Linked DNA regions of Homo sapiens: all the other regions are linked to region 2. Evidence: fine-mapped expression QTL. A gene starts in region 2. Each other region holds a variant in brackets. All regions are shown on one strand. Distances are from middle to middle.

The links. PIP is the estimated chance that this variant, and not a neighbour inherited with it, causes the effect.
Region 1: its variant is the best candidate, but not a certain one, in a credible set for the expression of DRC3 in esophagus mucosa (GTEx, PIP 0.60).
Region 3: its variant is the best candidate, but not a certain one, in a credible set for the expression of DRC3 in left ventricle (GTEx, PIP 0.60).

The regions. Positions count from the first base shown.
Region 1 is chr17:17,999,746-18,007,924 of GRCh38, reverse strand. DRC3 (dynein regulatory complex subunit 3) reads right to left here. Exons shown (of 14, transcript NM_031294.4): 10 at 3,431-3,562; 11 at 1,672-1,742; 12 at 778-901. Among named protein-coding and RNA genes, the nearest start is that of DRC3, 31 kb to the right of the region's middle. The variant G/A (reference allele first, on the strand shown) is at 3,471.
Region 2 is chr17:17,969,008-17,977,186 of GRCh38, reverse strand. DRC3 (dynein regulatory complex subunit 3) reads right to left here and starts at 4,325. Exons shown (of 14, transcript NM_031294.4): 1 at 4,213-4,325; 2 at 3,225-3,335. It overlaps TOM1L2 (target of myb1 like 2 membrane trafficking protein), which reads left to right and starts at 4,787. Exons shown (of 15, transcript NM_001082968.2): 1 at 4,787-4,925. The coding sequence starts at 4,874. RefSeq lists enhancers at 4,034-4,353, 4,725-5,294 and a silencer at 5,034-5,083.
Region 3 is chr17:17,891,600-17,899,778 of GRCh38, reverse strand. TOM1L2 (target of myb1 like 2 membrane trafficking protein) reads left to right here. Exons shown (of 15, transcript NM_001082968.2): 3 at 1,105-1,183; 4 at 5,969-6,118. Among named protein-coding and RNA genes, the nearest start is that of SREBF1, 59 kb to the right of the region's middle. RefSeq lists an enhancer at 1,976-2,025. The variant T/C (reference allele first, on the strand shown) is at 3,480.

The sequences.
Region 1 (8,179 bases), 31 kb before region 2:
AAGAGGACAGTAAAGAGGCAAGCAGTCCAGGCCAAGGACGATGGTGGCTTGCCTTGGTGGTGATGTCGCGACAGAGAGAAGCTGAGAAACTGGCAGTGGAGTGAATGATGCATGCACTAAAGCAGGCCCTGACAACATAGTATCTCTGTCTGGGCCCTGACAACATAGTATCTCTGTCTGGGCCCTTGATGCCCACACTCCTTCCAGAGACATAGACATGCTGCCGCGGGACCCAGCGCAGACATCCGGGAGAGCCTTCTTAGCGTGCAGACCCCAGGGATGGAGCCAGGTTCCTCAGGCCGACCCTGCTGATTTTGTGACCATTCATCAGTGGATGTGCTGGTGCAAACCGGATGGCATTGTGCAGGATCAGAAATGGTGGTTCCAACACCCCCACAGTACTCATTATACAGACTCTAAGGTTAAGAAGACCTCCAGGGGAAATCTCAGACTTCAACCTCTACCTGTAACTGCTTCTCTTAGAAAGTGCCAGAAGCCTCCACATAATTGAACTTTTGGAAACGACCCTGTTGGAAAGTTGAAACCATCTAATTATCATGAGCTCCTCTTTAACTGGGCCCCACTGGGTGCCCCACCAGGTGCTTTGTTAGCCTATTTTATCTGCCAGCAACCCTGTAAAGCAGGTTAGTGTGCCCTTTTGCAGATGAGAACACTGAGGCTCTGGGAGGTTGTCAGGCTTACTCACAGAGCCTCAGTCCAGCCACAGAGCTGGGCTGGACCACATCTGTCAGGCTCCGAGCAGCCCGCCCCGCCTACCGCGCGCAGGTCGTTAGGCAGGTCCTCGTCCAGGTCGCCCTCGACAATCTTCTCCAGGGTGCTGATAGAGATCTCCAGGAGCTTCTCGTGGTGGTGATTCTCCAGGTCCCGGCACTGAGCCATCGTGCAGCCCCGAGTTAAGCAAAGGCCCGGGAGGAGCAGGCCCGGCGCGTCCCTGATGCTCTCAGACGGCGGGAGACAGACTTTAAGGGCCCAAGGCGAGCTCGGAAATTCTGGCTGGCAGCACCGTCCACTCACAAGCTCCGAACCCTGGGCCTTCCTCGACTCCCTGCCCCTGCCCCACACCTCGGACGGACCCTCGGCCCCTGCCATCACACTCTTCTCTCCCTCCTGCATGGAGGCTCCTGGCCTCTGGGTTAACTGCTTCTCACCCTGTGCATTTGGCACCACTTGTTGCCTCTACAACTTGTCTCCCTGAGGGACTGTGAGCCCCAGGAGGGCAGGACCACAGGGCTGCTGCTAGCTGGAGCACAGCAGTTTGCCCCATGTGGAGTGCCCTGAGTTCGGGTGGAAGAAGGGTTGGCCATGCTCCGATGTTGGCTCCTCACCCTAACATTTCACCTGATGTACTCCTTATAGTGTCTTCCACGTGGGGGTTGCCTCAACCCCAGAGTGTGCTTGCCTGCAACACAGGGGGCGTCATTTCCTAGTGAACATCACTCATATGAGAACAATCATGCTGGGAGCCTACTGCAAACAGTTTGGATGTTGTCCCTCTGGGCATCCAAACCACAGCTCTAACCAGGCCATCATTGTTCTGAGGGTCGGGAAACCTCCTCAGACCCTGTGGAACATTCTTTTGTCCAGAGGCCGGGACAAGCCCAGGGGCTCTGTAGCACCTCCCCATGGGGAAGGTCATCACAGAAAGGATATAGGCTTTGGACATTTTCGATAAACAGTCCTACCATGTCAACAATGTTCCTTTCAAACATGTTTATAGTCTCCTGGAAATGTTAAAGAACACAGTTAACATGCATATTTAGATGTCCAGCACAGAGCAAAAGGTACTCCTCAAAATTTAGCAACCAGCTCCTCTAATCACAGACCTTCAGCATAAAGACCACCCATCTTGACCCTCCTGAGCAGATGGTTGTGAACTGACCCCTCTGCTCTCTCTAAAGTTGTTGTTCTCCAACCATATTAACTCCCTCACCATCTGAATGTTTAATGCTGTCACCGGAACTTTGCCAGGAACACTTGTCCTGGTCTTACTCCCCTTACCTGCCTGCCCAACACACACACACACAGCCAACCCCCTCTCCTTTGGGTTTCCCAGTGACATCTGTGCATCACCTCCAGGGAAACAGTGGAGTGAGCTGTTAAGAGCTAGACTGCCTGGGTCAGTATTCCCAGCTCCAGCACTCTGTGTAACTCTGGGAAAGGCATTTCACCTCCTTGGGCCTTATCTTCCTCATCTGGGAAATAGGTTACCTGCATAATCCCTGCGTTGTGGCGTTGTGGTGAGGTTAAATGAGTCACTTCACACAAAATGCTTTGCAAGGTGCCTGACAGAGAGGAGGCCCTCAGTAGGAGCGGGCTGGCACTCCAGATCTCTTTCAGTTAGTTGCTGTTTTGTGGTGCTTAGCAAGGCACCTAAGGCCCAAATGGGAGTTAGTGTTGATTGAAGGAACAATGGAAGATGTGATCTCCAGGCCTGCCACTCTCGGAGTGCCCCACTCCCATCTGCTATAGACTCCAGGGGCTGCAAGGTGGGCAGGGGTGGAATCTATAGGAATGTGAGTACTGTCTGCAGAGTGAGCACCTCACATAATTTTCAAACACATGTATGTGCTGTTCTCGTGAATAAAAATAGGGTCATTGAAAAGCATGATTGCGCTTGTGGCTTTCTGGCCACCAGTAATACAAGTAGGATGGCACATGGGTTCTGGGAAATGTTTGGATGTTGAAAGGCAATCTCCGTGCCTGAAAAGGCTGGGAGCTGCTGCCTCACTCGCCCCTGGCACTGTGCGCTGCTTCTGCAGTGCCTGTGCTCTCCAGCAGGGAGGGAGCACCTGCCCTGTGATGTGATGGGGAAATCTATCCCATGTCTGAGGTGTCACTTGACGTGTGAGGAATTGATTAGGTGCTATCACTTGGCCCAGCCACAGCAGCATCCGATGAGGTTCAATTCATCACACCACTTCAGACTCCCAGCCTCCGCTGCCTTGTAACACATACTCTGGCTGCTAATGAATTTCAGACAGCGGCGCTTTTCATTTTCACTACTTAGTGCTGAGTTGCAGCCTCCTCACGTCACCTGAGAAGCGGCAACTGCAGGCTGCAATGCGGAGGGGTCTTTGTTTGGTCCCCAAGTGGGGGTGCGCTTTGCCTTTAGAGTACCCGGATAGCTCCAGGGGTCTAATCAAAAACCTCTCCCCACTGACTTCCAGGATAGGGGGACCATTTCAGAAGAATGAGCTCACCTCTCATTTTCCACAAGAATCACTTCCAATGTAAATGATTAAAATGTAATAAAAGCAAACAGGACTGATGAGCAAGAAAGCTACAGCCTGCCACGCTGAGTCGTGCTGGACGTTTCCAGCAGAGGCGTGCCCATGAAGGCTACAGTTCACCTATGGATGTGCAGCTGCATCGCCAGATTCTGGCACTTGTGCCCAGGGCCCAGCCTTACCTCCAGCTGCTCCACCAGCTGCATCTCCAGCGTCATGAGC[G/A]CATCGAACAACTCACTGATGTCAGCACTGCATTCTAGGATCATCTTCTCAATGTTGGGCAGTTCCAACTCCTCTCGAATGGCACTTAAACTCTAGAAACAATAGACTGCACTTTAGGAATCAACAACTAAGTGTAATTAGATAATGGCAGGTGGCAATTTGGTTTTGTGGGTAAGAATTTGGACTCGAGTCAGCCTGCCCAAGTGCAAGTCTCAGCTTTGCCATTTGCTGGCTCTGAAAGCGTGTAGAAGCTACCTACCCTCTCCATGCCTCAGTTTCCTGGTCTGTAAAGTGCGATTGATAGCCCCTACCCTTGACACAAGTGAGAGAACACATGTGAGGCTCTTTGAGCACTAGCAAGTGCTCACTCCCTGTAAGCTCAGGTTTTTATTAGAGGCTGGTAGGCAGGGTAGAAGGAGCCATGGCTTTCATGGGGTTCAGAGCATTTCACACCAAAATATGCCGCTTTGGCATAGTGATTATTTTGAGTTAAAGATACTTAAAGGCCGGGAGCAGTGGCTTATGCCTGTAATCCCAGCACTTTGGGAGGCCGAGGTGGGTGGATCATGAGGTCAGGAGATTGAGACCATCCTGGCTATCACAGTGAAACCCCATCTATACTAAAAATACAAAAAAAAAAAAAAATTAGCCAGGCATGGTGGCGGGTGCCTGTAGTCCCAGCTACTTGGGAGGCTGAGGCAGGAGAATGGCGTGAACCTGGGAGGTGGGGCTTGCAGTGAGCCGAGATTGTGCCACTGCACTCCAGCCTGGGCGACAGAGTGAGACTCTGTCTCAAAAAAAAAAAAAAAAAAAAAAAGATACTTAAAAACAGAAAATGCAAAGAGGACACCCTGACCTCCCTTTTTCTTCCTGAAAGCAGAAGTTAAATCTCCCATGGGAAAGGTGCCCTCCCTGTACCAGGAGGAAAGAAACCATTCTTTTTTTTTTTTTTTTTTTTTTTTTTTTTTTTAAAGACGTAGTCTCACTCTGTCACCCAGGCTGGAGTGCAGTGGTACGATCTCGGTCACTGCAACCTCTGCCTCCTGAGTTCAAGCAATTCTCTGCCTCAGTCTCCTGAGTAGCTAGGATTACAGGCACCTGCCATTATGACCGGCTAATTTTTTTTGTATTTTTAGTAGAGACGGGGTTTCACCATCTTGGCCAGGCTGGTCTTGAACTCCTGACCTCATGATCCACCCACCTCGGCCTCCCAGAGTGCTGAGATTACAGGTGTGAGCCACTGTGCCCAGCCAAGAAGCCATTCTTATCATCAGAGGGAGGGAGTCCGGGCCAAGGGGAATCTGTGTGAACAAACCTTGTTAAACTAACGCTCATCTGCCTTGTCACTTCTCCACGATGAACTGCCTTAGCCCAAACCTCTTTGTCTTGTCACGTTCTCACAATTCACTACTCTCTGTCCAACTAAGTATATAAGCTTTCGGCCCTAACGGCTTCTTGAGCCTTCATTTTGCTTGTGAATGCTCCCATGTACATGTACAAATTACTCAATAAAATTTGTATGCTTTTCTCGTTTGTCTTATGTCAGTTTAATTCTTGGTCCCAGTCAGTGACCCTGATAAGCTAGAGGAAAAAATTTACCTGCCTTACAACTTCAGAGTTAGGTGAACCTGAATTTGAATCCTGCCTGGGTCACTTAACAGTGTGACCTTGAGAGACCCACTTTCATTCGCTGACTCAGTTTCCTCACTGTAAATGGGGAGAAGCATCTCTGCCTCACGGGGTCCTGGGGATCAGAGGCCGTGTACAGGAAGCACCTGGTGCACAGTGGAGCTCGGCTACCGGAGTCTCCTATAAAAGGCCTATCACAGGCACAGGCCAGGAAAGACCCTGGCAAGGAAAGACAGTTCCAGTCTTTGAGGAGATGAATTGAACCCACACAGAACCCCAGTGAGCAAGTGGAAGCTACTGCTAAATAGATGCTGAGCCCTTTGGAATGAGGGGGTGCTCAGAGGGTATATGGCAACCTGGGGTCCAAACAGCACTGACTACCAGCTGCTTACTAGCAAAGGGCCTGGGTTACCACCAACACCAGATGTGATTTTGGCTTGTTTTTGTTGATGCCTGGTATTAGTCATGAAGGAGGATGGAGTAACAGCATGATTGAAGGGGGCGAATGACATAATAATAGCTACCCTGTCTGGAGAAAAACCAGGCTCGATCCCTACCTCAAGCCTTACATGAAAACAAATTCCTGATGAAGATTCAAATGTAAAAAATTAAACCATAAAAGTGCTAGCAGAAAACCTGGGAGATTTTTTTTTTCTTTGAGACAGAGTCTCACACTGTCACCCAGGCTGGAGTGCAGTGACGTGATCTTGGTTCACTGCAACCTCTGTCTCCCAGTTTCCAGCGATTCTCTCGCCTCAGCTTCCCAAGTAGCTGGGATTATAGGTGCCTGCCACCATGCCCAGTGAATTTTTGCATTTTTAGTAGAGATGGGGTTTCACCATGTTGGCAAGGCTGGTCTCAAACTCCCGGCCCTCAGGTGACCCGCCCGCCTTGGTCTCCCAAAGTGCTGGGATTACATGCATAAGCCACTGCGTCCGGCCAAACCTGGGAGATTTTTAACAAATAATCTGAGATCTTGCCAAATATAACCAGAAGATTGGTAAACTCTACTACCTTAAAAATTTTTTAATTCTTTTAAATTTATTTATGTATTTACTTTTAAGATGGGGTCTTACTATGTTGCCCAGGCTGCTCTCAAACTGCTGGGCTCAAGCGATCTTCCTGCCACAGCTTCCCGAAGTGCTGGGATTACAGTTGTGAACCACCTCCCCCAGCCAAAAAAATTTTTCATTCTGAATGGCAAAAGCACCACAGACAACATTGCAAGATAAAACACAAACCGGGAAAAATATTTGCCATTCATTTCACTGACACAATCTACAAAGAGCTCCTACAAAGTAATAACATTTTTTTTCTTTTTTTGAGACAGACTCTCACTCTATTGCCCAGGCTGGAATGCAGTGGCATGATCTTGGCCCACTGCAACCTCCACCTCCTGGGTTCAAGTGATTCTCCTGCCTCAGCCTCCCAAGTAGCTGGGATTACAGGCATGCATCACCACCCTGGCTAACTTTTGTATTTTTAGTAGAGACGGGGTTTCACCATGTTGTCCAGGCTGCTCTCGAACTCCTGACCTCAGGTGATCCACCCACCTTGGCCTCCGAAAGTGCTGAGATTACAGACGTGAGCTACCACGCCCAGCCAGGTAATAACTTTTTAAAAAAGAAAGGTCTGGTCTGATGGTAGTAGGTTATGAGAACTTATTAAATTTGGTGTCACTGAAGTTGGTATACAGTCTCCCACTGCTAAATTTGACTAGCTAAAAAAAAAAAAGAAAGAAAAAGAAAAAAAGAAAGAAACAGCCAGGTGTGGTGTTGTGTTCCTGTAGTCCCAGCTACTCAGGAGGCTGAGGCACGAGGATTGCTTGAGCCCAGGAGTTCAAGGCTGCAGTGAGCTATAATGGTGCACTGCACTCCAACCTGGGCAATGGAGTTAGACCCTATTCTGAAAATAATAATAATAAATAATTTAAGAAGAGAGAGAGAAACCAAAAACCAAATAGAAAAGTGGGCAAGGGCAAAATATAAGTACAAATAATTCACAGAATAAAAAACACAAATGGTTGTAAAACATGTAAAACGTGTTGCTCATCCCCACTTAAGAGAAAATAAATGCATACTCAGGGTGCACAGATTGGCAAACATGAGGAAGCCTGTGACACTGGCCTGATGACGGCTGTGGAAGGTACAGGTTCTGTAGGTTACAGTTGGACAATAACCATGAAAAAAACCAATGCACAGTTCCACTTCTAGGACTTCATCCTGCAGGTCAAACTTGCACCAACTTATTCAGTGGAACACTAAAAGAGCAAAAGGTTGGGAAAAAACCTAACTGTCCATCAACAGGGACTGGCTAAATAATTATGGCTCACCCATGCAATGCGATATTTTAGCTATAAAAAAAAGAAGCTACTTTTTCATTTTGGAAGGCTCTCCAAGATGCATAATATAGGAAAGCAAAGTACAGAACAAGGCATGCTATGCACACACACACACACACACACACACTCACGTGAAAGCAAAGTACAGAACAGGGCATGCTATGCGCGCACACACACACACACACGAAAGCAAAGTACAGAGCAAGGCATGCTATGCACACACACACACACACACACTCACGTGAAAGCAAAGTACAGAACGGCATGCTATGCACACACACACACACACAGAGGAAAGCAAAGTACAGAACAGGGCATGCTATGCATACATGTACACACACATAGGAAAGCAAAGTACAGAACAAGGCATGCTATGCTCACACACACACACACACACACACACACACGAAAGCAAAGTACAAAACAGGGCATGCTATGCATACACGCACACACACATAGGAAAGCAAAGTACAGAACAGGGCATGCTATGCTCACACACACACACGAAAGCAAAGTACAGAATAGGGCATGCTATGTGCGCGTGTGCACGCACGCACACACACACACACAGAGATACAGGAGTAGGAGGGAGACCGTATCCCCCAGTGGCCATTCTTCAGGCTGTGCCATGTGCACACACTACTCATTCGAGAGTGCAGCTGACTACACACAGACATGCTGTCATCCTTTTGGGCTGACTCTGCTCCAGGCCTTGCACAAGTGCTTTCCCTCTCTGTTT
Region 2 (8,179 bases):
CCTGGGCAGCCCCAGCCAGGCCTGTCAGCCTGCAGCTCCTCTTCCTTGAGCACCTCACCCCCTCCAGGCCGTCATGTGTGTATGCCCCACACCACACCACAAGCTTCTCCTGGTGCAGAGGGAGCCCCTGACCCAAGCTGCCCATTCACGTCCTCCCCGTGGGAGATGTGAAGTTGAGGCTGTGGAATGAGAGTGCCCATCGGAGCTGGCTGCTTGAGCTGGGGAGGAATAGGGAGTGTGGGCTGGCTGGGTACATAGTTAAGCAGAGAGCAAGAGGGGGAGGAGGCAGATGCACAGAGAAAAGCAGAGATGGGAACCTGGGAATCAGAAAACAAAAGACAAAGGACAGACAGATCGACACAGACAGAGGCTGCCTCCTTCTTGCTGGCTTTCCAGTCCCTAATGTCCCTAGGTCCAGGCCTCATGAGAGTTTCCTGTTTCTCACATGAAATCCTCTTCTACTTAAGCTAGCTCCAGTAGGTTATTTTTTAATTTAATTAATTTATTTTTTTTGAGACAGAGTCTCGCTCTGTCGCCCAGGCTGGGGCACAATGGCGCGGTCTCAGCTCACTGCAACGCCCGGATTCAAGCGATTCTCCTGCCTCAGCCTCCTGAGTAACTAGGATTTCAGGTGTCCACCACTACGCCTGGCTAATTTTTTGTATTTTTAGTAGAAACGGGGTTTCACCATGTTGGCCAGGCTGGTCTCAAACTCCTGACCTCAGGTGATCCACCTGCCTCCGCTTCCCAAAGTGCTGGGATTACAGGCATGAGCCACCGTGCCCAGCCTCCAGTAGATTCTGTTGCTAATGGTCCAGAGGGATTTGACTGAGACACCACAGCACAGGGGGGATCTGTAGATTTGGTCAGTCACAATGTGAGGCTGACTCCAGGCTGCCGTTCGTGGCTGGACCACATTCTCATCCTTATCAACCCTCTTGGTGAGGACATCCAGGAGGGATATTTTCCCCCACTTTCCACCCCTGATTCTTGCCTCCCTGCTGGCCCTACTTCCTATCTTTGTCTACATGCCTTCCCAGCATCTGGGCCTCCCTGAACCTCCTGTCCTTCTGCCCTGCTGGTCCCTGATGCTAGGCAGCCCCTGTGCTCTGTTTTTCATTCCACTGGGCACTGCTGGAGAAACTCCTGGTGCAGGGCTGATGGTGTCTGCTGAAAAGCCAGGTTGGGCCATACAATCCTGTTACCTGGTCTTAGAGACTTCCCTCTAAGACTGCCCTCCTCTTGCCTCCCTGACCATCCACTTGGATGCAGCTTCTGCAAATATGCATCCTCTGCCCTGAACTGTCCCTCATCAAATGTCCCAATGAGCTCTTGTGCACACTTCTCTCTTGCTTCCAGGGGAGGCATAGCCTCCACACCCTTCAACCCCTACCCCTTCTCCACCTGTGCCTTCCGTCCTCCCAAGACCTTGGTCCTTTTCCTCCCACTCTCTCCAATCTGTTCACACTGGCTCCACCTCGTTGGGGTGACTGATTCTACCCCCAAAGACAGTTCCAGACCTCGGCCTCTCTCTAGCTCCCCACTCTTATGCAATGGCTTCCCCTGCGGTTTCCCATAACTTGTCATCAACTTGTCTTTGGGGGAATTTTAATGTGTTATATTTGGCTGATGTTTTCTGCAAAGTGTTTGGCCTTTTTTTTGGGGGGGGGGTGGGGAGGTCAGGCGCGGTGGCTCACACTTGTAATCCCAGCACTTTGGGAGGCCGAGGTGGGCGGATCACAAGGTCAGGAGATCAAGACCATCCTGGCCAACATGGTGAAACCCTGACTTTATTAAAAATACAAAAATTAGCTGGGCATGGTGGCGCATGTCTGTAATCCCAGCTACTTGACAGGCTGAGGCAGGAGAATCGCTTGAACCAGGGAGTTGGAGGTTGCAGTGAGCCGAGATCGTGCACCACTGCACTCTAGCCTGGTGATAGAGCGAGACTCCATCAAGAAAAAAAAAAAAAAAAAGGTGCTATACTTTGGGAAATGACTCTTAATTTTGATTTCAAAACTTTAACTGACTTATCCCTCCTACTTCATCAGGGCCTGGTACCTGTGACAGATCAAGTTTGCTTTCAGTCAAGCCCAGCAATTGCTATGCTAGGAAATGGGGGATTGTTATTACATATGCTATTTGTTAAGCACATCAGAGCAGGATTTGGATCCTGACTGTGCATCTTTTGGCAACTCACTTCACCTATCTAAGCCTTGGCTTTCCCATCTGTAAAAGGTGGATAATTTCTCCCTTCTGCATTTGTGTGAGATCACGTATTTAGTCCACACATGGGTAGTGAGTAACTGCTATATGCTGTGAATAAAACAGACGGACTTTAACCCAGCTTCAGGCATGAATCAAACAATAATACAAATATTTAACTACAAACCATGACAATTTGTAGGTGTAGGGAACTATGAAATTGTACATTAGGGGCACCTGGCCTGGCCAAGGAAGACAGGGCTGATTGGAAGGACAAGCAGGAAAGAAGGAGGAGGTAACTTTGTGGAAAGGCCCTTTAGGTGGGAGAGAACAGACTTGTTGCACTTTGGCTGAAGTGATGCAAGTTTGGAGAGGTCTGTGGGAGTTTTGTTATTATCCTAGAATCCCTGGAAAGCACCTAGGGCTTAATAAGGGCAGCAACATTAGCTGGGCATGGTGGTGCATGCCTGTAGTCCCAGCTACCCTGGAGGCTGAGGCAGGAGAATCGCTTGAAACCGGGAGGCGGAGGTTGCGGTGAGCCGAGATCGTGCCATTGCACTCCAGCCTGGGCAACAAGAGCGAAACTCCATCTCAAAAAATAAAAAAAATAAGGGAAGCAATGTGATCAGATCTTAGTTTTTAAGAAGCTCACTCTAGCAACAGTACTGAGAATTGCAAAAGTACTGAGGTGAGAGATGACCAGGGTGTTAGCAAGATGTAGATGGGAGAAATTTCTAGAAACTTAATTTACATGTAGGGCTAATACTCACCAATATCCAGATAAGAAAACAGAAGCTAGTTAAAAAGGTTAATTAACATGCCCAACTTCATACACTTAGCACGTGGCAGAGTTCATTTTCCTAATCATGACTCAACTGTATCCAGGGTACTGGGGACTATCATTGCCACAGCTCACAGTGTTTCTCACAGTTGTCCTGGGTTCAGGGCCAAGGCCCAAACAGTCCTCTTCTATGGGGATCTTATAGTTTACCACCCAACCTGGGTCCCCTTTGACTTGCCTGATGATAGTGTTGTTGAAGACCAGAGAGGTTGGAGCTGGGGAAAGCAGCAGAGTTTTACACAACTGTCAACGGAGTGGCCTCCTCACAGATAACAGATCCAGAATTTTCCTGGGAAATGATAACCTGAAGTCAACAGGATCTGAAAACTATAGTCCCTATTGGCCATGAATTAATAAGGAGAAAATTGGTTGGGCGAGATGGCTTACACCTGTAATCCCAGCTCTTTGGGAGGCCGAGGTGGAAGGACTGCTTGAGTTCAGGAGTTCAAGACCAGCCCGGGCAACATAGGAAGACCCTGTCTCCATTTTTAAAAATAAAAAATAAATAAATAAATAAATAATGAACAAAATTTTTCTTAAAAAAGAATAAAATCAATCACTTACTGAATGCTTACTGTGTGCTCAGTGCACATGCATTATTTAAGTACATGTAAGCTCCGGAGGCCATAAAAAGGGAGTCCTAATGCCCTTATTTCCCAGCTAGGGAACCTGAGGCTCCAGGGAGGTAAAGGAACTTGTCCAAAGTCGTACAATGAGTTACTGACAGAGACGGATACAGAACTTGAGTAGCCGTATTCACATCCAAAGCGGTATATACAGTACCAAGATGAAATCATTTGATAGTTATGAGGTCAGTTATGATGGCTAAATTCTGGGAAAAGTTATCAGTGGACCGGGTACCTCTCTTTCTATGAAAGGAGGCTGGAAGACGGAACCCCTTAAAAATCCATTCTGGCCCTGCTCCCTCGGGAAATGCTTCCTTAGTATTTTTTTTTTTTTTTATTCAAAAGCTTGACAAGCCCAGGACTAAAGTGTCTTGGCTGTCTCACACGACTGTAAAGTGGCTGGGAGAGGACCTACGTGCTCATTTTATAAATGAGAAGGGCCGGGCCGGCGTTCTCCGAGAAAAAGGTCACAGGAAAGAGTTACGTCGGGCACTATCTGTCCCTGCAAGTCCTCCGGGAGCCTCAGCTCCCAGGTCTCACCTTCTCAAGCGCTGGGAACTCGGCGGTTCCACGCAGCAGACGCGTCTCCCGGTTGCTGGGGAACCAAGCGCCGCGACTTGGTTGCTAAGGGGAAGTCAGAAGGGAGACATCCTGGGTGAAAGTTGACAAGTCACGTGACCACATCTCCGTGTGGTGAAACACTCCTTACACCAACCAGCCGTAGAGAAAACAAATGTTTCTCCAATCAGTACTTTCTATGGGCGGGGATATTCCTAGATTCACCTCTGTTCCGTCCATTTGCGTGATTGACTCGTCTTTTGTCCAATAATAGTAAGAATCCTTTAGATTGACCAATATACAGAGGAATCAAAATGCGCAGCTTCCCCTTTGGGGGCGGGCCAGGGGAGGTGCCGCCACGGCTGACAGGGACTCCGGTGACCTAGCTCGCTCCTCCGCCCAATCGGACGCTGCGGGGTGGGTGGGGGCTTTGCTGACAGAGGTGTAACGACCAATAGGAGGCGGGCTTCGTAGGTGTCCCCCAATAGAGACGCGGCAAGGGGGCGGGGCCAAAGGCCCTAAGCTCGGCGTTCCAGAGAGTGGGGAGGGGGCAAGTGTCAGTCAGGACGGGAGTCCGGCGGGTTACAGCGGAGGCCTAGGTGGCAGACAGGGGGCCCGGGCCGCTGCGTGTTGTCCACCCAAGATGGAGTTCCTCCTGGGGAACCCGTTCAGCACACCAGTGGGGCAGTGCCTCGGTAAGGCCGCGTGTGGGGCAGGAGGCTGGGCAACGGCGGCCGCTGATCCGGCTGGTGAGGACCGCGGGCCTCCGCCGGGCGCCGGTGCCACTTCACGAGCGGGCTGGGCCTCCGCCAGCCGCGGGTGCCACTCCACGAGCGGGCTGGGCATCCTGGTCGTCGGGCCTTTGCCGGGCGCTTGTGCCACCTCACGGGCGGGCTGGGCATCCTGGTCGTCTGGCCTTCACTGGGCGTCGGTGCCACCTCACGGGCGGGTTGGGCATCCTGGTCGTCGGGCGTTCGCCGGGCGCCGGTGCCACCTCCCGGGGGGGCTGGGCCTTCGCCGGGTGCCGGTGCTATCCCACGGGCAGGCAGGGCATCTGTGTCCTCGGGCCTCCTCCCGGGCACTGGTGCCACCTCACGGGCGCGCCAGTGCCACTCTGCCAGGAGGCACCCCTGAGGCCCAACTTGGACTCGGAGATGCCCCAGGCTTCCCTGCCCATCAAGGCTCAGCCCTTCCTTTTGCTGCTAGAGGTGGTGCCAACTGCTGGTCTGCTTCCCCAATGCGCTTTGGGAGATGCCACTGCATGTGTCTTTATCCAGCCCAGCAGGCTCACTGCCACTGCCCCAAGGACCCAGTTCTCCCAAACCCTTTGTGGGATGTCACCTTCTTCTCCATCTTTGTCCCTCCTCTTCGGTACCAGCAACCCTCAGACTGGGCACCCTCCCAGAAATGCCCCCTGCTCCGGGACTTGCTAATTTGAGCTGCAACTCAGCTGTGCTGTAGGAGGGACTGGGATAGGAGGAGGGGCTCTTGGAGGGTGATTATCTTGGCAGGGGGATGGCATGCCTGCAGTGCCTCCCAGGAAAGAAGGGAGGCTGTGTTATTTAATGATAAGAGCCCTGGACTGGGAATCATGGAAGCCTGGACTCTAGCAGTGGTTTTGTCAGTGACTCCATATGACCTTGTGCCCTTTCTGGTTTGAAGTTCCCCTGTCTGTCAAAGTGTTTGGAGATGAGATGTGATAGATCCCTTAAAGTTCTCAAGTTTTGATATTCTTTGTAGTACTCTGCACATTGACTGTTGCTTCCTCCCCCACCTCATATTAAGTTTACCAAAGCTGAAATCTTTTGTTGGCAATGTAGAGAGAATGGTACTCAGCATTATCTGTTAATCCTATAGGGGGGATGTGGACACCTGGGGACACCAGAGATGGCCAGAATCATGGATAAGGAAAGCCCAAAGTGTAGGTAAAGGAATACTGAAATGGCCACCATATGGGACTTCCTTACTAAGAAAGCAACTTGCCTTTTTACCCAAGGCAGTGGCTTATGCCACTTGATCAGTCAAGAATGCTGATTAGTTTGTTTGAAAACTGGATTCCTCCTGGTTGGTTGAAGGACTGGTAAAACGTCTTTTATGAGCCAGGATCTTTGGTGTTCTTATGGGCCTGATTTCAGCAGTAGTGATTTGTTTATTTTCTGCTTTGCTTATGAAATTTTAGCTTACTTTCCAGCCTTTAGTGGAGCCTATAAACTTATTGAGGTCTCTCCTGTTGGCTAATTAGCATTTAGGAGCCTTTCTTTACTTTCTGGCGTAGTATCTTTTATAATGCATGAGGGACCCCAAAAGAGTGTTTTCCCACCTTTTTGACATCTTGTCTCTTGCTGCCCACTGGAGAGTCTCTGGATTCTCACTTCCTTACTTCTTCCCCATGTCCTTTTCCACTCTCTTCAGGTGCTCTTGCATGGCAGCCACACTCCAAAAACTAATTTCCAGCCAGTTAATGGAGGGAGCCAGAAAACTTGCGAGAATTGTTTTCCTTTCTGTCCCCTTTATAATAGGAAGCTCTACACCTTTAAAATGACAAGGTAGTAAATGAGGGGTAGAAGTTAAAGGGGATTTAAAATACAAATGTGGTTGGGTGCGGTGGCTCACGCCTGTAATCTCAGCACTTTGGGAGGTTGAGGCGGGCGGATCACAAGGTCAGGAGATCGAGACCATCTTGGCTAACACGGTGAAACCCCGTCTCTACTAAAAATCCAAAAAAAAAAAGAAAATTAGCCAGGCGTGGTGGCATGCGCCTGTAGTCCCAGCTACTCGGGAGGCTGAGGCAGGAGAATTGCTTGAACCCGGGAGGCGGAGTTTGCAGTGAGCTGAGATTGTGCCACTGCACTCCAGCCTGGGCGACAGAGTGAGACTCTGTCTCAAAAAACAAACAAACAACAACAACAACAACAAAAAACCAAATATAAGAGATATAGGGATATATAGCAAGTGGAAAGAGCTTGATACTTCTGTCAGGGAGACCTAAGTTGAATTTTGACCTGGCCCCCATTTCTTGGCTGTGTGACCCCAGAAAATTGTGTTGCTTTCTGAGGTTTAGTTTGTCAGTCTTCTGAGAGAGAGAGAGAGAGAGAGAAAGATTCCTATTCACAGAGTAATGTAGTTTAAATGAGATAATGTATGAAAACACTTAGCATAGTATCTGGAACATAGTAGAAGCTCAGTAAATTGAAACTGCCACTGTTAATAACAGAATATTTAAGTTAGGGTTGGATTTTCTATCTGGAGAGGATATGTGAAACAACTGGCCCGTCTGTGACCTGTGAAGGAAAATACCCTACCAGGCCCCAGGATTCACCATTGCTCATAAGATGCTTGACTAAAGATGATGATGGCTCCCCACTGCCAGGTAGCCAATAGGTCATTTCAGTTCAGTTCAGGTAAATGATTAATGGACAGAATTAGGTTCTAATGTATATTCCGTACTGTTGTGACAAAGTGTCAAAGTGACTTTCTTGATATTTAGTGTTGTTAGTATTCTTTTAAAAGAATGTGCGGGGGTGGGGGATTGGTGGGAGGGAGGGGGAATACAGAAATAAAATAACAACTACAAAGCTAATGATTAAAAACAGCAGCTGTAGGCTGGTTGTGGTGGCTCATGCCTGTAATCCCAGCACTTTGGGAGGCCAAGGTGGTGGATCACTTGAGGTCAGGAGTTGGAGGCCAGCCTGACCAATATGGTGAAACCCTGTCTCTACTAGTAATACAAAAATGAGCCGGGTGTGGTGGTGGGCGCCTGTAATCCCAGCTATTCAGGAGGCTGAGACAGGAGAATCGCTTGAACCTGGGAGGCAGAGGTTGCAGTGAGCCAAGATTGTGCCACCGCGCTCCAGCCTGGGCGACAGAGTGAGACTCTGTCTCCAAAAAAAAAAAAAAAAGGAGAGCTGGTCCCTCTCTGATCCCTGTCCTCAATGGATTTACGGTTTCA
Region 3 (8,179 bases), 77 kb after region 2:
AAGCTGGGAAAGACCAGTATATTGACACATAGATTAGTGGAAGGCTGGAACCCATGTGTGATTGCAAAGCGCTGGCCCACAGCCGGACTGAGGGCTCCCCAGAGCATAGGGTGATGGGTCAGGTCAGCACAGGGGCTTTGTGCCAGGGGCAGCTGCTAGGCCCACAGCTTTGTTGAATCCTGAGTTAGAATAAATTAAATTACATGTTAGACACAAGACCTACATGTAATATGTATACTTAGAGGGCTGCCTGGGAATCCTGACTCTAAGGTATAAGAGTAATTAAGGAAGAACTCACTCCAACTTCCAAACAGCTCCACTCCAACTTTTGGACAGAGCCCATTTGTGAACTGAGTACTGTCTATAATTCTGCAAGATTTTATCTGGGAATCCACCTCAGATCTGTCACCTAAAAACACAAAACTTGTTGGGTTTTAAGGAGACTCACTTAAGCTTTCTCTGGGAAAAGGAGTTCCATGGAATTCAGGAAGAGCCGGGCATCCAGGGCTCACAAGGACCTGGCACGCTCTCTTCTGTGTCTCTCATATGGTTTCTCTGGAAAAACTCTCTTCTATGTACCCACACACCAGTGGGTTAGTTAGGGTTTTGAATAAATAATACTTGCATGTGATACAGAATTCAAGAGGTCTGCAAAAAGGCAGTCCAGTGAAAAACCTCCCTCCGCCTTTGGTTCCCTTCCTTAGGGGCAGCCACAGTTACCAGGTTGTTATAGCTCTTTCTAGAGAGTCTCTTCCCTACGCTGGCACCTGTGCTATGTATGTTTGCTTTCCTTCTATAACTCAACTAATAGCAAGCTTTGTACACTGTTATGCAAAGAACTTTATGCACATGTCTTTGAGTTTGGTGTATATTGGTGCATGAGTTTCTTTATTCTTTTTTGCAGCTGCATAGTATTCCATTGTGTCAATGATTTAATTTAACCTGTTGTGTATTGATGGACATTCAGTTTGTTCCCAGTCTTTTACATTTACAAACATGCTGCAGCCAGCAAATAGTCTTGCATATATACTAGTTCACATATCTGTAGGATCGTGTCCTCAAGTGGGATTGTAAGTATCTTTATATGTCTGTTCTTTTTTCCAGGCCAAAGGATGCCATTCGAGCCCTGAAGAAGCGGCTCAACGGGAACCGGAACTACAGAGAGGTGATGCTGGCATTAACAGTGAGTGCTATTCTCCTTGAGGAGAGAAGTCATCTGGGGAACTCCTTGCTCCTGGCCTTGCCCCCCTCACAGGGCCTTCCCTCTGCCCACTTAGCACAACCTCTGAATGGCTTGGTGCCTGGGCCACTGGAGTCCAGCAAAGCCTTCTGGTATTGCCTTTGGGTTTTCCTGTCCTCTGAAACAGGGAGTGGTGAGCTTCAATTTGGTAAATGTATACGAGCAGAAGATAAGGTGTGTGCAGTGCTGTCAGGTACAGAAGCCCAGAGCAGAGGAGCTAAAGGTTTTGGGTGGGTCCCTTTTCTGTCACCAGCCTGCTCTGAGACTGAGACCAACTCCTTCTCTAGATATCAGTTTCCTCTTTGTAAAAATGTTGGCCAGGCGCGGTGACTCACACCTGTAATCCCAGCACTTTGGGAGGCTGAAGCGGGAGGATCTCAAGGTCAGGAGTTCAAGACCAGCCTGGCCAACATAGTGAAACCCAGTCTCTACTAAAAATACAAAAATTAGCCAGGCATGGTGGCAGGTGCCTGTAGTCCCAGCTACTCAGGAGGCTGAGGCAGGAGAATTGCTTGAACCCGGGAGGTGGAGGTTGCCGTGAGCTGAGATCGCACCACTGCACTCCAGCTTGGGCAACAGAGTGAGACTTCGTCTCAAAAAAAAAAAAAAAAAAAAAGTTAACTTCCACCTATTGAGTACCTGCCCCTGCCTGGGACTGTGCTGAACTTTTTGGACATTAATGAATATGTTTACAACCACCCTCCAAAAGAGATTTTACTATCCTCCCCCGTACAGATGATGAAACTGAGGCTCAGAGAGGTCTGGAGGTTTACCCAGCCTTCACAGCTAGTGAGGTGTACTGAGCTGTGGATTGCCATCATAAAGTGGTCTTTTGCATGGGGTAAAAACTGAAAATAGCTACAAAGACTCTTGAAAAAGTCAGCCAAGTGATTTTTTTCAGGAAGGAACAGACCAGATTTTTGCCCTTACCAAAGCTGTCAGAGAATTTAAAAAGACGACTTCAGGTGTTATTTCTGTCTTGAGAACTAACAGTTTTTCAGATGTGGCAAAATCTGGGCCACAGTGAGTTCTTAAAATAGAAACTGTAACAGGTCACCAGGTCAACTTCTCTGGGGCTTTGAAATAGTAGGTTATTTATCCAAAACAACCATGTTTCCTTTTAAAGCAGAGAACCTGTTTGGATTTTTTGCCCAAGCGAAACCCCAAAACTTATTAAGAGAGTTCTGCCAGGGAATTGGGATTTGAATAATAAAGGAGAAAAGACTGGTTGAGAAATAGGGAGTTGAAGCTTTTATTTTATTTTTTCTCAGAATTTGAGCCACAGCATTCACTAAACCAGGAGTGATGCCCAAAACGAGTGGCTTTCAATAACTCATATCACGAGGGAATGAGCTCTAATATATCAGGGAATTTTACTGCTATCTAAAACATCTCCATTTACACACCCAACTTCATGGTAATCGTGTTGGATGGAAATCTTTCTAAAGTGAACTCTGCGTTTACTTGCCTTCCTCTAGCAGGGCATGATGGACACTGTTTGACCTTTCCTTGGGTTAGGTCTTCACTACAAACCCAGCCATGCCTTTGGGAGGCCTGTGAAATGCGCAGGGCTGCCGTCCCTACACTGAGGCCCCATCCTAGCGCGCTTTGCATGGTCTCACGTCTGCTGATAGGGCTTCACTTACTCTCTTAGTCACTTTCAGTCCTCCTGTTTCCTGTGGCCCTCTCCGGACTTCATATCTGTACCCACCAAAATTGTTAATATTTACCCAAAATAAGTTAGTAAGAAGCCCTGAGGGGCTCTCTGCTTGTGTCTTCATTTGTGGACTTAAACATCACTTCTGATTGCTTAGAGGCCCCGTTTACTTTCTCCATGGCTTTTGGCTTCATTCTGGAAAATTACCACTGTATGTTTCATGCCTTTCAACCTATAGGGACAAAACTGCCAGGGTCCTGTTTGGCAGGGTGGCCTAAAGCGGCTCTTGCCAGCCCAGGGAGGACCTCCTAGATCTCCTGCTCAGATAGGCTTTGGGGCTGCTCTGTGGCACATGCATCTCTGTCCAGGGCACTTCCAAGACCAGGCTGGGACACACTGACCTTGAGGACTGCTGTGCAGGAGAAACTAAGCATGTATTCCCTAATGGCGGGCAGTGGTTCCTGCCACTGTTGCTCTGAGAGTGGAGTGGAGCCCCAGGCTGCTCTACTCCTCAGACCTATGCCTGTTTTTCCAATTCTCTTCCCCACTCATAATTGCAGCCTCACCTTTCCCACCTGCTTC[T/C]CACAAAATAAAGCATACTTCTTGCCATCTGCCTTGACCCCAACACCCCACTGCCTGAGTTGGGAGGAAGGTTTTAGAGAATCCTAGAGAGAAGGGTGCCTGTAAGGCCCTTGAGAACAGAAAGAACCCCTCTGGTTCATTTCAGTGCCCCCATGGATCACTACAAGAGAGTGAATGCCAATTACCTCACGGTTACCAGAATCAGGCACAAGCAGAGACTCAGAAAGGAAAATGCCTCCTTGGCTTAGTAAAACCTGTGGTCACTCAGAGGCCCTGAGGGTGCTAACCTCCAGAATCTTCCTTGGCAAGCCCAGAGGAACCCGGGGCCTCCTAAGGTGCAGCCAGCAGCAAGGCAAGGAACGATTCTGGCTGGCTGCGGAGCTGCCTGGCATGGGGAGTCCCAGCTTTGGCCTCCTAGGTTAAGTTACATGGTACCTCTGATCCTCAGCTTCCTCATCTCTAAAATGGGATGATTCCCATCTTACAGGGTTATTTCAAGGACCAAAGGGGGGAACAATAAATCTAACACATGTTGCCTGTCATCTGAGGCACTCTTAGCTGATGTGGCTGCTTGGAGGAGAGCTGTGAGGGAGGGATGGCCCTGTGGCCTCAAGGTGGGCGAGGAGACTGGGGCTCCAGAGAAGGCTAATCACAGCTCTTGTGCTCCTTCTGGCACTGACTGACAATTTGTACCTAGATCAATGTCTTCACCTTTCTAAACCTCTTAACTCTAAAACATGGGATATTAAGGTCCACTTAAGGAGAAGTAATTAGTTGTGAGAATTGGATAAAACTCCATATGTTATGGAAGGATCTCTCATAGTGCCTGGCATATAGTCGCATTCAGTCAGTGTTCCAGTTATGGACCTTTCTTTACGGCTATGTTTTGTCCAGGTAAAGCCCACTTGCTTGGACCTAGCCCTGTGGGATGGCTGCAGAAGTTAACCAGTGGTTGGATTAGTTTGGGCAAATGAGAATAATTGAGGTAGTCAGAAATGTTCCCTGTTGCTGGTGACATCGTTTTGAGGAGGCATTCCCCAGTTAGTAGACTGTGGCACTGGGGGCTGTTGGCATGGGAAGGGCCAGGTAATCCTATGGGTTGGTTTACACAGTGCTGGGAAGTTCAGAGCACTCCCAGTTGGCACCTCCGAATTCCAAGAGGCTACATACCTGTCCTATGGGAGGATAAGAGGCCATCCCCTTCGTCGTGTGTACAGCAGCCTTCTGAACAGTAATCACGTAATCATGGTCATCAGTTATTGGGCACCTCCCCTATGCAGGATACTTTGCTATGTGCATTATTTTATGCATGCATGCATGCATGTATGTATGTATGTATGTATGTATGTATGTATGTATGTATGTTTTTGAGACAGAGTTTTGTTCTGTTGCCTGAGCTGGAGTGCAATGGCGCGATCTTAGCTCATTGCAACCTCCACCTCCCAGGTTCAAGCGATTCTCCTGCCTCAGCCTCCCAAGTAGCTGGGATTACAGGCATGTGCCACCAAGCCTGGCTAGTTTTTGTATTTGTAGTAGACGCAGGGCTTCGCCGTGTTGGCTAGGCTGGTCTTGAATTCCTGACCTCAGGTGATCCACCTGCCTCGGCCTCCCAAAGTGCTGGGATTACAGGCATGAACCACTATGCCCGGCCTATGCTTTAAACGTATTCTTGCTAATCTTTCCAACAATCTTGCAAGGGAGAGCTCATCATCTCTGCTTTACAGATGAGGATGCTGAGGCTCAGAAAGATCTGTCCTGGGCCATTCAGGGAGAAAGTGGTGGAGCTGAGGTTCAAGCTCTCACTGACCGTCTGGCCAGAACCAGTATGCTGGGCTTTTCTGAGCAGCTAAAGCCTGTGTCACTTGTTTTCCCAGACAAGGGAGGAGCAGGCAGGGTCTGAATTGAACATGGACATTAAAGTCACCTGGCAGCTGAGGTCCACAAACCATTTGTCAAGAGTGGAAAATCCTTTGTCATTGCCAATTTTGGTTGCAGAAGCAGGGTTGAGTGGGGGATGTGTGTGTGCATTTGCTTTCTCACATATAAGGGCCAGTAACTCACTAAGCAATTCAAGCTGTCATAGCAGCCTCCTCTTGTGACAGAGCCCATGTCCGATTGGCTAATGCCTTATACCCAGAGGCCCAGAGAGAGGAGTTAAAATGCTAATTTTCAGGGACCGCTCAGTCATTTTGATCCCATTAAAACACTAGCATCCTTCTCATGCAAAACTGGTGCCTCAATTACCAACTAATTGCCTGATTATTGTGCAGGGACAGGAGACTTCAGTCAGTAAGGGGCTGCTGTCATCCCTGGAGAATGGAGTGTGGGAATGCGTGTGCCATGCAGGTTTGGCTCTGGAGGAGACGTGTCAGAAAGCTGATCTAGGAGCAAGACAGAGGGGATGGTGGAAACTCAGCTGCGCTCCTCAGTTCCCAGTGTCTTCTCCAGCTCCCACTGGGGTGACCCTTTTCCTTCCCTCCCCACATCAGGTGCTGGAGACATGTGTGAAGAACTGTGGCCACCGCTTCCACATCCTTGTGGCCAACCGAGATTTCATCGACAGTGTTCTGGTCAAAATTATATCTCCCAAGAACAACCCTCCCACCATTGTACAGGACAAAGTGCTTGCTCTGATCCAGGTAGGTTGGACCCCTTGCCCAATTTGTTGGAACAGAGTAAGATGAAGTCTCTTATTGATGAGTCCTCATGCTCTCCCACCATTTGGAGGAAAAAAAAAATGGAGACTTCTACATTTAAAATATTTGGTGCAAAATACTTCAAAAAAAATTCTCATCCCACTGGAATGAAATTCTAATTGATGGCTCTCCAGCCAGTTAACAGAGCCTTCCTGAAGCTTTCTGGGTGCCATCCCTCTGCTGCTCACAAAGGCAGGTAGGGTGGCCTCAACAGGCCTCTGAGAAAACTTGGAGTAGGAAGAACCATGTTAGAGCTACGTGCGGGTTTGGTGAGGTCACAGGGCAGGGGCCAACTCTGGGTCAGGCGGAGCAAGGTAAGGGGCTGGGGATGGTGTTAAGGGATGTTTCACTGAGGAGATGACATTTCCATTGGACCCTGAAGAATGATGGGGAGTTTGGTGGAAAAGTCAGTGGGAGAGACTTCACAGGCAGGGAGAATAGCATGTGCAAAGGCCCAGACGCATCAAAGAGAGCAGTTGGCATATTTGGGTTGTATTTGTTATCACTCACTGTGTTACAAATTACCTCAAAACATACCTTCAAACGGAAAATGTTCATTATCTCTTAGTTTCTGTGGGCCAGGAATTCAGGAGCAGGTGGCTGGGCAATTCTGGCTTGGAGTCTCTCTTGAGGTTGCATTGTCTGAAGGCTCGACTATAGCTGGAGGCTCCACTTCCACCATGGTGCACCCACATGGCTGTTGGCAGGAAGCCTCAGTTCCTTGATGACTATTGGCAAGAGACCTGAGTTTATCACCATGTGGACATCAAGATTAGGTCTTGATGACCTAGCCTTGGAAGTCACATACCATTTTTTTCTGTTATATTCTATTTGTTAGAAGGGAGTCACCAGGCCTAGCCTCAAGAGTAGGGGAAATAAACTCCATCTCTTGAAGAAAGGAGGATCAAATAATTTGTGGACATGTTGTAGAGACCACTATGTGGGGAAGGGGGTGTAATGAAGAATGTTGGGGGCAGGGCTTGGGGTGGGGGAGCAGGCAGGAGATGGGACCAGAAGGATGCCCAGAGGCCAGTGGCCATGCATGCTGAGGAGGCATGCTTGGTCCTGTAGGCAGTGGGAAGACATCGAAGGGCTCTGAGCTGGGATGTGTGCAGACCTGGGTTTTAGACAGAGCACGTGGTGACACAGAAGGCACATAAGTCAACAGGCACATCCAGCCTGGGTGATTAGTGCTGTGGCAGAGGCAAGACAAGGGCCTGCAGGAGCCAAGAGGAGAGACAAACCTAGGGCTGGGCGTGGGGCTCCAGCAAGGGCAAAGGGAGGCAACCAGGCAGAGGCAGCGGAGAATGCAGGAAGTGGAGTGCCGGGGCAGGCCGGGCTCTCAGATGGGTCAGGTGTGCAGCTGGAGAGGAGCCTCTGTCCATTCCCTGTGCTCACTTCCCTCTGCCTGAAAGGTCTTTCCCCAGCTTTCAGAGCAGTGACTCCTCCTCCTCATTCACAGGTGCCTCGGAGGCCTCCAGCTGGTTTTAAGCACACACACTCTCTGTCTCACATCATCCTTTTTTGTGGTCTTCAAGACTGGCTTTGCTAACATTTCTTTTGTCTGCCTCATTCTTCGTTCCCTAAGAACCCAGGGACATGCTGTCCCCAGGGTCTAGAGCAGTGTAATGTGTAGAGCGGGTGTTCAGTATTTCTTTATAATGAATGAGTGAATGTAGTTAATTCTGAGGAACTCTGGGAGGCCTTCCCCTGTTTACCCTAGGGTTGTCCCTCGTCCCTGTTCTGCCCACCCAATATCCTTCTGTCTCTCTGTCTCCCTCTGACACACACACACACACACACACACACACACACACACGTGTGCATGCACTTTACCTTCCTCATACACCCCACTCTACCACAGCCCTTCCTTCTGGGGCTGCACTCCCCTACCTCAATACCCCCAGGAATTCATGTTAGGAAAACAAATGGTGGCTTCTTCTCACAAAGCATGTCCTGTGGTAGAGCTTTCTGACCCCGAGGCCTGTCTGCAGGGTGGCGGGC